Homo sapiens: one gene and its partner. The protein of the gene in region 2 purifies or fractionates together with the protein of the main gene of each other region. This does not show direct contact. Each region holds a gene or a part of one and is shown on either strand. Other genes may lie near its edges.

Evidence for each region. The genes of interacting proteins can lie anywhere in the genome.
Region 1: the proteins of GLT1D1 (region 2) and ASAH1 purify together in Homo sapiens (affinity purification with mass spectrometry; 2 studies listed by BioGRID and IntAct, with this or other methods). This does not show direct contact.

The regions. Positions count from the first base shown.
Region 1 is NC_000008.11:18,060,099-18,067,126, forward strand, and holds part of ASAH1 (acid ceramidase isoform a preproprotein), read right to left. Parts: intron 4,434-7,028; coding exon 4,359-4,433; intron 3,133-4,358; coding exon 3,087-3,132; intron 2,326-3,086; coding exon 2,181-2,325; intron 1,643-2,180; coding exon 1,588-1,642; intron 1,361-1,587; coding exon 1,279-1,360; intron 1-1,278. UniProt on the Homo sapiens protein: Lysosomal ceramidase that hydrolyzes sphingolipid ceramides into sphingosine and free fatty acids at acidic pH.
Region 2 is NC_000012.12:128,940,477-128,947,504, reverse strand, and holds part of GLT1D1 (glycosyltransferase 1 domain-containing protein 1 isoform 2 precursor), read right to left. Parts: intron 2,180-7,028; coding exon 2,136-2,179; intron 168-2,135; coding exon 47-167; intron 1-46.

The sequences.
Region 1 (7,028 bases), on a different chromosome or scaffold from region 2:
CGGAAATGTTTAGCTCTGTAGAAACTAAAGAAAAACAAGTATCTAAGGAATGTGTTATTTATTTATTTCTATTTTTAGAGATGGGCTCTCACTCTGTTGCCCAGGCTGGTCTCGAACTCCTTGGCACAAGCGATACTCTTGCCTTCGCCTCCCAAAGTACTGGGATTACAGGCATGAGCCACCATGGCCAGCCACAATGTGTTTTCTAAAAAAGGATGGTGAGCAATGCCTCTGGGAAAAGCAATCCCTGACCCTGTATGGTGAACACTGAGATGGGAAGCGGGAATCTTAGGAAGCCCCTCTAATCTGAAGGAGAAACAAAGTGGCCTCAAGAGATCATCTTCCACCCTTACTGTCCATGCCTTTCACTCAACAACAGAACAAAGGGAAATAATATTACAGTATGTAGGACTTAGAGAACAGAAAGTAAACCTTCTTGAAAATTAGGACTATTAAAAATTGAAGTGGGTTATCAAAGAACACTACTAACATTAAATCTTATTCCCTGGGAAGTATTAAAAATAGGATTGATGCCCATTTATTTGGACGCAGTGCTGGCTGAATGAAGGAAAGGCAGTTTTGCTATTGTAAGATTTCTATACCAAGGCAAGATATAACTTACAGGTTAATATGTAGTACATTTTGTATTTATTTATTTTGTTTTTTTAAGACAGAGTCTCACTCTATCACTCAGGGTGAAGTGCAGTGGACTGATCCCAGCTCACTGCAGTCTCGACCTCCTTGGGCTCAGGTGATCCTCCCACCTCAGCCTCCTGAGTAGCTGGGACTACAGGCAGGCACGTGTCACCATGCCTGGCTAATTTTTGTATTTTTTATAGAGACGGGGTTTCGCCATGTTGCTCAGACTGGTCTCAAACCCCTGGGTGCAAGTCATCTGTCTATCTCAGCCACCCAAAGCGTGAGGATTACAGGCATAAGCCACTGTGCCTGGTCTGTACTACCATTTAAATGAAGATTTTACTGTATGACTGTTCTTTTGTGTGTGGGTCATTTTTTTTCTGTACACCAAAAATATTCATAGGTGCCTTTCATAATGTCAGTATCCCTAGTGCTTTTTAAGTAATTCATTTATTTGCTATAAAACACACAGTCTGCACGAAGAAAACATGAGTAATTCCACATGAGTGTCAGAGGTTCACCTAAGAAATTCTGCAATAGTTCCTCAAAGGATTAAGCTGGAGCTTGACAAATATTTTTATTTTTTAATATGAGTAATTTAAAATAAATATTTAATAGTAAAGCAACGAAACACTTTACCTTGTGCTATTTTCCAGAACTGTTCTAGTGAGGAACCCTATCCACATGACATCTTTCTTTCCCAGAATCCATTCTAGAATACCTGGAAGAGATGAACACAATGTCAGGAACCGGAAGAGGTGACACTATGTAACCAGTCAGGACCCGGAAGAGGCTGGACTATATAACCAGTCAGGAACCAGAAGAGGTTAGACTTTGTAACCAGTCGGGAACCGGAAGAGGTTGGACTTTGTAACCAGAAGGCACAGTCCAGCCTTCCTCATAAAAAAGCTCTGAGATTCCCATTTCACTTGAGAATGCTCTACTTACCCAGATAACCACCATTTATACTGAAACGTTCATTCAGTGTAAGACTGAACAGTCCCTGAGAAAAAGACAAAGCAACGAAGTCAGAAACATCAACCATGCGCTTTAAGGCCCTGTCGCTCACTGTACTTCAGAGTGGGATATAAAGGCCTAGCTTGGGTAATGGGGAAGGCAAAAATAAATCAAAACCATAAAAGGCTTTTTAAAAAGTTCAAAGCATTTTTGATTCTAGTATGTGAGATAAGTAGGTGGGGTATCACTGGCAACGCTTTTTGGACAGGAAACTGAAGGGCAGAGAATGAACGCCTGACTTGCCTAAGTGAGCGGAAGACCCAGGACTAGAAATCAGATTGTGACTCCCAGCCCTTGACACCCAGCCACATGCTCTTTATCCCAGAAGAGGCTCAGAAACCTCCGTTTCCTTTCTACTCTTCTCTACCACGAGATCTCATACCTATGAAGTGACAAGAAGTACAAGGGGGTGAAATGGGGCTTCATATTCCCTTTAGGTCCTCATATTCTTAGATTTCAACTTTTACATAACGGTAACAGGACAGAAGGCTACCTGTATAATTATGTAACAACAGACTCCTTACTGGTTTGAATCCTGTTAACATGCCCACATAGCCAGCAAAGCTTGAAGCCTTGAAGACAGTTTTGTTGTTTCTTTGGAAATCCAAATTCACTGTTAAAGGTTTTAGTTGCTCAGTTATGACCCAGGTATCATTATTTATGTTCCACCTATAAAAGACATGTTTCAGTGACATTTCAGAAACACAGTGATAGTAATGATCAACATGATGATGAGGGCCAGGCATTACACTAGGAGCTTTATTTACCGAGTCACCACGATCAATCCTAACAAGACCTTTACAATATGGTATATTTATTCTGTTTTCCAAATGATAAAATTGAGGTTCAGAGAAGTCAGGTAACTCTCTCAATATCACACAGCTTATAAATAGTGAGCCTCAGATTCAAACATAGAATGCTAATTACAATATTCTTATTTTTTCAGAAAGGTCAAGATGGACACATAAAATAGAAGAGCATGTCCCTCTTGTCTCAGCACTCAAGCAATCCATTTATCTTCACTTATGATCACATTTTGGGTGTGACTTGGGACTTACTTATCATCAATATAACACAACCTACTCTTCCTACAGACCAAAACAGTTCTGTGTTCTTTTTTTTTTTTTTTTTTTTGAGATGGAGTCTGGCTCTGTATCCCAAGCTGCAGTGCAGTGGCGCGATCTCGGCTCACTGCAACCTCCGCCTCGCAGGTTCAAAAAAGTCTCTGCCTCAGGCTCCCAAGTAGCCGGGATTACAGATGCCCACCACCATGCCTGGCTAATTTTTATGTTTTTAGTAGAGACGGGGTTTCACCATCTTGGCCAGGCTGGTCTTGAACTCCTGACCTCGTGATCCACCCGTGTCAGCCTCCCAAAAAGCTGGGATTACAGGCGTGAACCACCATGCCTGACCCTTTGTTCTTTACTTACCCAAGAAATACTCCAAAATCCATGTTTCTCCCATGTATTAGATGACCTATTTGAAGGTAGACAGAAGAGACGTGTAATAGCAGTTAAGATTCTAAATCAAAGCTGGACAATTAATTTTGATTAATTAATTTATTTTTGAGACAGAGTCTCGTTCTGTTGGCCAGACTGGAGTGCAGTGGTGCGATCTCAGCTCACTGCGACCTCTGCCTCCCAGGTTCAAGCAATTCTTGTGCCTCAGCCTTCCACGTAGTTGGGATTACAGACATGTGCGACCGCACCTGGCTACTTTTTTTTTTTTTTTGTATTTTTCTTTTAGTAGAGAAGGGGTTTTACCATGTTGGCCAGTCTGGTGTCAAACTCCCAACCTCAGATGATTCGCCCGCCTCGGCCTCGCAAAGTGCTGGCATTACAGGTGTAAGCCACTGTGCCTGGCCTCTAATTTTGATTAATTTTTATTCACAACTGTTTCTTCAAACAATAAGAAGTAAGAAACATCCTAATATCCTAAGCCTTCACCAGATGGGACTGTTGTCACCGTCTATCTGCCAGATAACCCCACAAAATCTGAGAGCACGGGTTTCCAGGTAAGATCAGAATATGGGAAAAGGAATCAATGGTCATGTTTTGGTTCACTATCACATGGTTCTACCAGGACACAGAAATCGGAGCCTCAATTACTGTGATTCATCAAATGTTTCCCTTCAGGCATCATCCCCTAGAGCAGGACATCTCAAGGGTAAGGTACAGGCAGATTTATACCCAGAGTATAGGTCAAAGATCAGGGTGAGTTAGCGAAGTTGTCCTGTGCTTTGTACTCTGGGAACCAGTCAGGAAAAATACGGGAAAGTGAGGCTGGTATCCATTGGGTTGCCTGGCTGGGAAAGGATGGGAGAATGTGTGTTCTGGGCCTCAAGAAAAGGACAGATGTCATGACATACACGAAGATAAGGAAGCACCTCCTGCGAGCACTTCCATCAAAGCATGTAGATGGGTAGAAGTAAACTATGAGGAAGAGAAGAATGTTTCTAGCCCTGCAACATTTCTTCCAGGTTTTTTGCATGTCTGAAATCAACTTTAATAGGCAGTACAGTAGTCTGAAAATAAGGAAAATTTTCAGTACAATCACAAAATTTTACCAAGAAATAAAAAGCTGTATGCAACATACACAGAATTTACATAGCAAGCCCAAATTTCAGAAGTTCTAATTTCATTTAGAAGATTTTTCTTTATGTAGTGCTTCATGCTGCCCACCCTCCCTCAGCGCACAATTACCTTTTTTGTCTTCTGCTACTATTGAAGTACAAATGGTAAATAATTCATAAAAAATATTGAATGAAATAATCTCTCCTATGAGAAAAGAAAATTTTGTGTTAATATACAGAACCATGACAATGGGAGAAAAATTTGTTTTAAGAAAAAGTTTCAGTGTTTTCATTGTGTGAGTGTGTGCTTTGGCCAGTGGGGCTGTGCTGGAACGGCCGGCTGGAGGTGGTTTTCTTCCCCAGCCTGGACTCTCTAGACTCAAGATGAAACAAGTCACCAAGGAGGCAGCCTTCGGGCGAGCTGAACATCTGGGCAGGTTGCAATTGTTCTCCAACATCACATCCAAAATGTTTATCAACATGCTTCATTTTGAATTTTCTTTTGGGAGCGTAAATATGATCATTTAATACATCTGGCTCTTGGCTGTTTGCTGGACATATATTTTGCCCAGATTTTTAAAGTGTGACTAAAATTTCTAAGGTGAAAAAGGAGATTCAAGAACTATTAAAATTAGTACAGAGCTGCCAAGAAACTCCATTCTAGGGTATTTTATTTTTTGAATATTTTCCCAAAATGTATAATACTGCTATTTAGCATTTAATTCAAAAGTAGGCAGCACATTGTATTTCTGTCCCATTTAACATTAACATGTTAAGCTCAACATGTTTTTTTCACCCAAATCCAATGTGTATTTTATTTCCATTAAATTTCTAATTTGGTGAAATTCTAGTTATTTTATTATACATTTATAATAATTTATAATAATTATATAAATTTACACCACTTATACATCATGTTATTCTTCTTAATCCATAAGGTATTTCTATTTGGTATTGAGTTGCTAGAGTTCTTTACATAATAAAGGAATTAGACTTGCTTTCCATAAAGGCAGCAAGTACATATTTCCAGTATGCTATCTTTTAAATGAGTTTTTTAAAGAAGCAGCACACAAAACTAGCCACTTTTGTTGATAAATACTACTGATTTTCACAAATTCTCAATCATCTCATAAAATGAAGGTACTGTTGGCTATTTAAAATAATGACACTACTGCTTTGCTAGCTTAAAGATAAAACTTTTGGGGTCGTGGGGAAAATATTTTTCGTTACATGCCATAAAGCTTAAATTGAAATTTTAAAAATAGCTTCCCAAACCATCAATATCTAAGAATAATTTTAACGAATGGCATGTGAGGTCTTCTCCCTGAAAATAAAAGATACTGCTCAGAGAAATCAGTAACTTAAATAAATATTGAGAAAAACAAAGTTGGAAGAATTATACCACCTAATTTGAAGACTTACTATAAAGCTTTAGTAACTGAGGTGAAATAGTATTGATATAAGGGAAGACAAAAAGACAAATATGTAAATGAAACTTAATTCCCCAAACAAAACAACATATATACAATCACCTGATTGTATATACAGATACACATTGTGTGTGTGTGTGTGTGTGTGTGTGTGTATATATATATGTATTGTATATTTATATCAAAGACACCACTGCAATTTGCTGAGGAAAGGATAGCCTTTTGAATTGATGCTGTTTAACTAACTGGATATACCACATGAGAAAAACCTGAAGCTTGACCCATAAGTCATAGCATATACAAAAATAATTCAAAATAGATGATAGGCCTAAATGTAAAAAGTAAACATTAAACATCTAGAAGAAAATATATAAGCATATATATATGACTTTGGGGTAGGCCAAGATTCCTTAAATGGATACAAAAGGCACTACTCATAAAAGAGAAGACTGAGATATTAGACTTCACTAAAATTAAAAATTTCTGTTCATCAAAAGACAAAAGTAAGAGAATAAAAATGAAGGTCATAGACTGGGAGCAGATATTCAGAATCCATATATCTGACAAAGGGCTTATATTCAAAGTATGTAAAAAATTCCTTCAATCTAATTTTTAAAAGGGCAAAAGACCTTCACAAGCCCTTCTCCAAAAGAAACAAAGAAAACCAAAAAAAAAAAAAAAAAGTCAATAAACTGTTCAATCTCATTAATCATCAAGGAAATGCAAATTGAAACTAAAATGCGATACTGCGACACTCAACAAAAAGGCTCAAATAAAGATTGACACTAACAAAAAAAAAGGAAAAAAAAAGACTGACACTATCGAGAGGAGAATTATCAAGAGGAGAAAACTGAAACTCTCATACTCTGCTGATTGTCAACTGCTGGAATCACTTTGGAAAACTGTTTGGCAGAATCTATAAGGCTAAACACACAATTACTCTATAACACAACAGTTCACTTCCTAGGTATATATCCAGAAAATGAGTACCCAGACACCCCCAAAATGTACTACAATATTTATAATTCCTTTATTGTTAATATCACAAATCTGAAAACCACCCAAATACCCTGTTGATACAATAGCACACCACCCATAATGAAATACAAGAAATCACACAGGACAGTTCATATTGTTCAGTTCTATTTATACAAAGTTCACGAAGAGGCAAAACTAATCTATAGTGACATCAGAATAGTGTTTACTGGAGGAGGCAGTATTTTCTGCAAAGGGGCATGATGGAGCATCGTGGAGTGCTGGGCTCTTCCGTATCTTGATCTGAGTCATGGCTACATGCATGCATGCATTTCTGAAGCTTCACTGAGCTGTATATCTAAGACCTGTGCACCTGTGCTGTATATCTAAGACAT
Region 2 (7,028 bases):
GGACAATTTCACACTCCCACTTTCAGTACTCGAGTTACATAATTACCTCCAAAATTGCAGCTGACATGCCTTCAGAGACAGAGCTATTCACCACCGCGAAGCAATTCTTCACCACCGCGTGCAGATCTTCTTGAGGCATCTCTCCAATCAATCGTACCCCAGCGGCTCTGAAACACAAAGCAGGAAGAGTGGCTCTGATTCCAAGAATCTCATGGGTAGGCAGCTGGGAGGAGGAGAGATGACAATTTGGGTGTAATACTCTAGATCAGCAAGTAAGCATTGTTGACCAAGCGTTCAGCCAGGAGAACTATACTGGGGTGGAAATCCTTACAGCTCATGTCCCTGACAAGGGAGGGAGGGAGTTGCTTAACATGTCTGCTTTTGTTTTCCATATGCTCCATAAAGACACCTGCTCTCAAGGACTAGAAGAGTCAGAGACAAGGTTCATGCCATTTTCTCTGCATGATTTAGAGAACATTTTTCTAATAATTCAACTTTTTTTCAAATAATTCTTTAAAATACTAATGAGACAATAAGAATAGAAATAATAGAAATAGGCCGGGTGCAGTGGCTCACACCTGTAATCCCAGCATTTTGGGAGGCTGAGGCGGGCAGATCACCTGAGATCAGAAGTTGGAGACCAGCCTGGCGAACATGGCGAAACCCCGTCTCTACTAAAAATACAAATATTAGCCAGGCGTGGTGGTGCGCACCTGTAATCCCAGCTACTTGGGAGGCTGAGGCAGGAGAATTGCTCGAACCCGGGAGGCGGAGATTGCAGTGAGCTGAGATTGTGCCATTGCACTCCAGCCTGGATGACAGAGCAAGACTAGGTCTCAAAAAAAAAAAAAAAAAAAAAAAAAAAAAAAGGAGGCCGGGCGCAGTGGCTCACGCCTGTAATCCCAGCACTTTAGGAGGCCAAAGCGGGTGATCACGAGGTCAGGAGATCGAGACCATGGTGAAACCCTGTCTCTATTAAAAATACAAAAGATTAGCCGGGCGCAGCGGCGGGTGCCTGTAGTCCCAGCTACTCAGGAGGCTGAGGCAGGAGAATGGCGTGAACCCAGGAGGTGGAGCTTGCAGTGAGCTGAGATCACGCCACTGCACTCCAGCCTGAGCGACAGAGCGAAACTCTGTCTCAACAACAACAACAACAAAAAAGAATGGAAATAGAAATACTAGAGACGATAATGTCACAAAAGCCCTGTTCCCAGCACACAGCGCTGACAGCTATTTTGTCATAGACATTTTGCCTTGTTCTATTTTTTTCACCAGACAATGTAAATCTTCGCCTTTCTTCGATCTTCCCCGTCCCCACCGCTGGCCACCACTCTCATGGCTCTGCCAGGCCTCCCTTCCCCGAGCAGGTGATACTTTTGCACACACGCGTCTGCACCTAGGAGCAATCTAAAGATCCCTGATTATAGATGGGGAAAAAACAGTCTTTGTCAGTGCCCTTTGTGGTTGGTGTGGCCAATGAGTCTGGCTGGAATCCTGGGGGGCTGTGAAGACACCACTTTACAGGGGGCTGACCCAAATAAGACCCACATCCTTCTGGTCTGCTCATTCCCATCACCCCACTTAAAATGCAGACTGATGACACAGCTCTATAGCTACCATGTCACCTTCAGGATGGGAGCCACAGGCTGAGGAAGTCAGGACAGAGACAGGAGCCAAATCCCTGAGGTCTCAGGGAAGCCTCCGTTTTGCTCCTTGAATGACCACCCTCAGACTTGTTGATGTGAGCAATGAAAGTTCAATCTGTTCAAGCCTGTGCTGTTGGGTTCCTGGCCGACAAATGCAACTTATAACCAACACACCAACAAATTGCCCTCCAGGCAGGCTGTGACAAAGGGCAATACCCCTCCATTCTTCCAAATCCTTGAGAGTTTAAATCTTTCCATTCTGGCCAATGTGATCCATTAAAAATTATAATCACAAAGTGATTTTTATTGGCCTTTCCCTGGGCAAATAATAGTGCCTAGGATGCCACGGGCTCGCCGGGAAGATGCATGAGGAAACAGTTGGAAACTGCTTGGAATAGTGCCTGGGACTGGATAAATGTGAGTTCAGGTAACCCAGGGGCCACTCAGGCTTCCCGTTCTGCAAAATGACTGGTCTCCACCAACTCTTACCTTTTCACTTTGGCTTTCACTTCCCTTGTAAACACTGGATCGACCTGAAAAGAGACAAAGATAAATGTCAGCGGTCGCCGCCTGCTAGTGGCGCTGCCAGCCGGCCAGCACGGGCCAGGCCAAAGCCCTGGTGCCAGCGCGGCGTGGGCCTCGGTCTGCGGCCACGGGGGTGTCCTCGCGGCTGCTGCGTGTGGTGATCATGGGGGCCCCCGGCTCGGGCAAGGGCACTGTGTCGTCGCGTATCACTCAATACTTCGAGCTAAAGCACCTTTCCAGCGGGGACCTGCTCCGGGACAACATGCTGCGGGGCGCAGAAATTGGCCTGTTACATGTTCTCACTCATAGGTGGGAATTGAACAATGAGAACACATGGACACAGGGAGGGGAACATCACACACCGGGGCCTGTTGGGGGTCGGGGGCTGGAGGAGGGATAGCGTTACGAGAAATACCTAATGTAAATGACGAGTTGATGGGTGCAGCAAACCACCATGGCACATGTATACCTATGTAACAAACCTGCACATTGTGCACATGTACCCCAGAACTTTATATATATATATACATATATATATAAATTGACGTGTTAGCCAAGGCTTTCATTGACCAAGGGAAACTCATCCCAAATGATGTCATCTTGGCGTGGCCCTTCAGGAACTGCAAAATCTCACCCAGTCTAGCTGTTGGATAGTTTTCCAAGGACACTTCCACAGGCAGAAGCCCTAGATAAAGCTGATCAGACCGACACAGTGATTAACCTGAATATGTCCTTTGAGGTCATTAAACAACGCCTTACTGCTCACTGGATTCATCTCACCAATGGCCAAGTCTACAACATTGGATTCAACCCTCCCACAACTGTGGGCATTGATGCTCTGACAGGGGAGCCGCTCATTCAGCGTGAGGATGATAAACCAGAGATGGTTATCAAGAGACTAAAGGCTTATGAAGCCAAACAAAGCCAGTCCTGGACTATTACCAGAAAAAAAGCGGTGTTGGAAACATTCTCCAGAACAGAAACCAACAAGATTTGGCCCTGTGGATATGCTTTCCTCCAAACTGACGTTCCTCAAACAAGCCAGGAAGCTTCAGTTACTCTATAAGGAGAAATGTGTGGAACTATTAGTAGTAAGATGGGCAAACCTCATAGTCCTTGCATTTAGAAGCTGCTTTTCCTAAGAATTCCAGTATGTATGAATTCTTTGAAAATTATATGACTTTTATTTCTACTGATTTGATTCTAGATACTAAGGATGTGCCAAATGAGTCAGATACTAAGATTCATCCTTTGAAATCATCTAGTGTGTTTTACGCAGCTATCCTCAAAAACATCAGTGATGTCTGAACTTTTAAAACATCTGTTGGAGCAAAATTAAAAGAGCATTTGGTAGTAATCTAAGTTTTTGTTCAGTTAATAAGTGGTTGATAAAGCTTCCGTATTTTCCCGGAAAAGTTAAAAAAAAGTTACATGTCATTGGGGGAAAATATGTGATCAGAAATGTTTGCACAGATCGATGCCACAAAAGACATCTCCAGCGTTGTGGAACATGGGGAGACACTATATAAAATACCAGAAAGAAAGCAAGTGGGTTTACAGATTTGTTGTAAGACACAAATCCTCTGCTACTAAGAAATGTGTATGCTAACCATATATGCTGTATTTATTTTGTTGTTAAGCATACTTTCAGTTTACTCAGAATTTTCAATTTGCTACAACAATGTATCCATTCGCATATAGAAAAATATTACTTTAAGATGACTTGTTTCCTTTGAAAATACATATGTACTGAGGGTTATGATTTATGTCAGAAATTAACATTATAAGTTCTTGGACAAGCACCGAAGTTGAATGAATTTTCAACAAAATGTAATTAAAATCTATATGTTTTCAGATGTGACTCAGGTTGAGAAATGTGTTTTAGGATCTACTTGCCGGTTCCTCTTTTTGATCCAAATGTATGATCCGCCCTGATAAATAACAAGTTATAGTGCCACTCCCTGCCAAAAAAAAAAAAGAGAGAAAAGAGAAAACCTGTGGCACTATGTAAATAAAGTAAGCACACTTTGTCGTTAGTAAATAGATGAGATATGCCTGGGAAACGCTCCCTTGGCATAAATAGCAATCAATCATAATTAGTAAACAGGTGTGCCAATAAAAAGACTTTACACAATAGGTTAACCAGGACCAGTAAGTGAGTTTCCTGAAGGAGTTCTTTGTTCCTGATCCAAGAAATCGATACCTGTTAGCATTCACTGCCACCTTATTTTAAAGGGAAAGAACTCTGTTGGTGTCATCTGAGAAGCCATTTAAAAACTGGAATCTAGGCCGGGCGTGGTGGCTCACGCCTATAATCCCAGCACTCTGGGAGGCCGAGGCGGGTGGATCATGAGGTCAGGAGATCGAGACTATCCTGGCCAACATGGTGAAACCCCGTCTCTACTAAAATACAAAAAATTACTCGGGCTGGATGGCGCGCCTGTAGCCCCAGCTAATCAGGAGGCTGAGGCAGGGGAATCACTTGAACCCGGAAGGTGGATGTTGCAGTGAGCCTAGATCGTGCCACCGCACTCCAGCCTGGGGGGCAGAGCGAGACTCTGTCTCAAAAAAAAAAAACAAAAAACAAAAACAAACAAACAAAGAAAATTGGAATCTAAAGTGATTCCTGAGTGGGGCAGCAAGGATGGCTGCTGATGTGCTGTGTGGTCTGGGAGAAGTGGGGCAGTAGGAGAGGTGGACGGAAAACCTGATGGCGTCTTCCATGGCGTATTTACTCTTTACTTGGTGCCAGAACAAATGAAACAAGCCCTCGTACAAGCTGTTATTAATTGCCTTTAAAAATCTTTTCCATTTTTTCCCCAGGTACTTAAAATACAAGTGCCAGTAAGCAGTTCTTATGTATTTTTGGGGAAAAAAATTTATTTTCCTTTTCTTCTGATATTTTAAAAATTCATTGATCTTTCAAGATGAACCAAAGTTTCTTAAAAGAATTATAGTACACACTTCATTCTTTATAAAACTTTCTATAATGCCTTATTTAAATGTTAATCGTACGTGCTTTCTAAAAATGTTGTGAACTACCAAACTTGTGGATTATCACTAGGTTATCAGGCATACATTAGTCTTTATCAGAATAAAATGAAATTTCATAACTGAGGCTATTACTTTGTCCTTGGTCCTTCACAGGGCCTGCTCCACCCCACCTTCCTTCCTGCTGCCTGATGTCTCAGTGGCTTCTGAATGACTGTGTTCTAATAAATGACCTTAAAACAGTGGAAAAAAAAAAAAGAAGACACATGTTAGCAAAAGCCTGAAATGAAGCTAAGTCTCCAGGAATTACATCAAATGGCAGCAGAGCCAGACTCAACAATTCAGAGAGGGAAAAAAATAAGTAGGAAATGGTACTATGAGCCCAGCTATTAAATAATAAAAACAATAATAGTAAAAAAAAAAAAAAAAAAAAAAAAGAGAGAGAGAGAGAGACCAGGCACGGTGGCTCATGCTGGTGGCTCATGCCTGGAATCCCAGCATTTTAGGAGGCTGAGGAGGGGGGATCATGTGATCAAGAGTTCGAGACCCGCCTGCTGGCCAACATGGTGAAAGCCTGTCTCTACTAAAAACACAAAAATTGACTGGGCGTGGGGGTAGAGTGAGCACCTGTAATCCCAGCTACTTGGGAAGCTGAAGCGGAAGAATCGCTTGAACCCGGGGTGCGGAGGTTGCAGTGAGCCGAGATGACCGCATTGCACTCCAGCCTAGGTAACAGAGTGAGACTCTGTCTCAAAAAAAAAAAAAAAAAAAAAGAGAAAGAGAGAGAGAAAGAAGAGACAGAATGTTCCAAAGAATACATATAGACTCTGGTTAGGAGCCTGTATGGCTACACCTGAGTGTGGTGAGTGAGAACCCTTCAGCCAACTTAAGGTCTTGAGACAGAGTCGTTTCCAGAAATGGGACAATTTGACAACCACCCAATATTGCAGTGGAAGTGTTGCTTAAATGATGCAGAAGGATTTTGTCATAAAATCATTCAGGCAGAATAGGTTGGAATCCTTAGTAAGTCTATGACCAAAGGTCTGACCATATCAAAATATTTTTTAACAGGATGACTTCGCAGAAACAGTTTGAAAGGCCAGGACCTGATCATCAGCTGATGAATGAGTAGACGTGATGTGCCAATCCATACAAAGGAGTGCCACTCAGCCGTGACAAGGAAGTGCCAACTTAGGCAGCAACAAGGGTGAGCTTGGAAAACACGATGCCACGTGAGTTACACCAGACAGGAAAGACCACAGAGTGTATGATTCCATGTCTATGAAATGGCCAAAGCAGGCAAATCACAGAGACAGAAAGTAGATTGGTGGTTACCCAGGGGTCACTCAGGATCTAATTAGGGGTTATTGGGGTGAGGCGGAAATGGGAAGTGACTGCTTAGTGGATAGAGGGTATCCTCTTGGGGAGAGAAAAAATATTCAGGAATGAGATAGGTGTGATGGTTGCACAACTTTGTGAATAGACTAAAACCCACTGGCTTGTACCCTCTAAAATGGTGAATTTCGTGGCATGTGAATTCCACCTCAACTTTTTAAAGGCCAGGGGCAGCCTTTTCATTAGTCACAACCTAACATCCTCCAGTCCCGACTTGACTCCTGCTTTGCATCTGGAAGGAACAGGTGCTTTGGGGCAGGGACTATTTCCGTCCTGTTGCATTCCTGAAGGCTAATAACACACTTGTTGAATTCATGCAAAAATTAATAGCAACATGTTCAAACTTATCGCTCCTCAAAGACAGGCCAGAAGTTTTTAAGCAAACTCGTAGTGGATGTGTGGAGGCCAGAAAGAGGCAGCACCAGACTGAGGGGACTCCGGATACAGAGGGCCAGGGTCAGGCCACCCAGG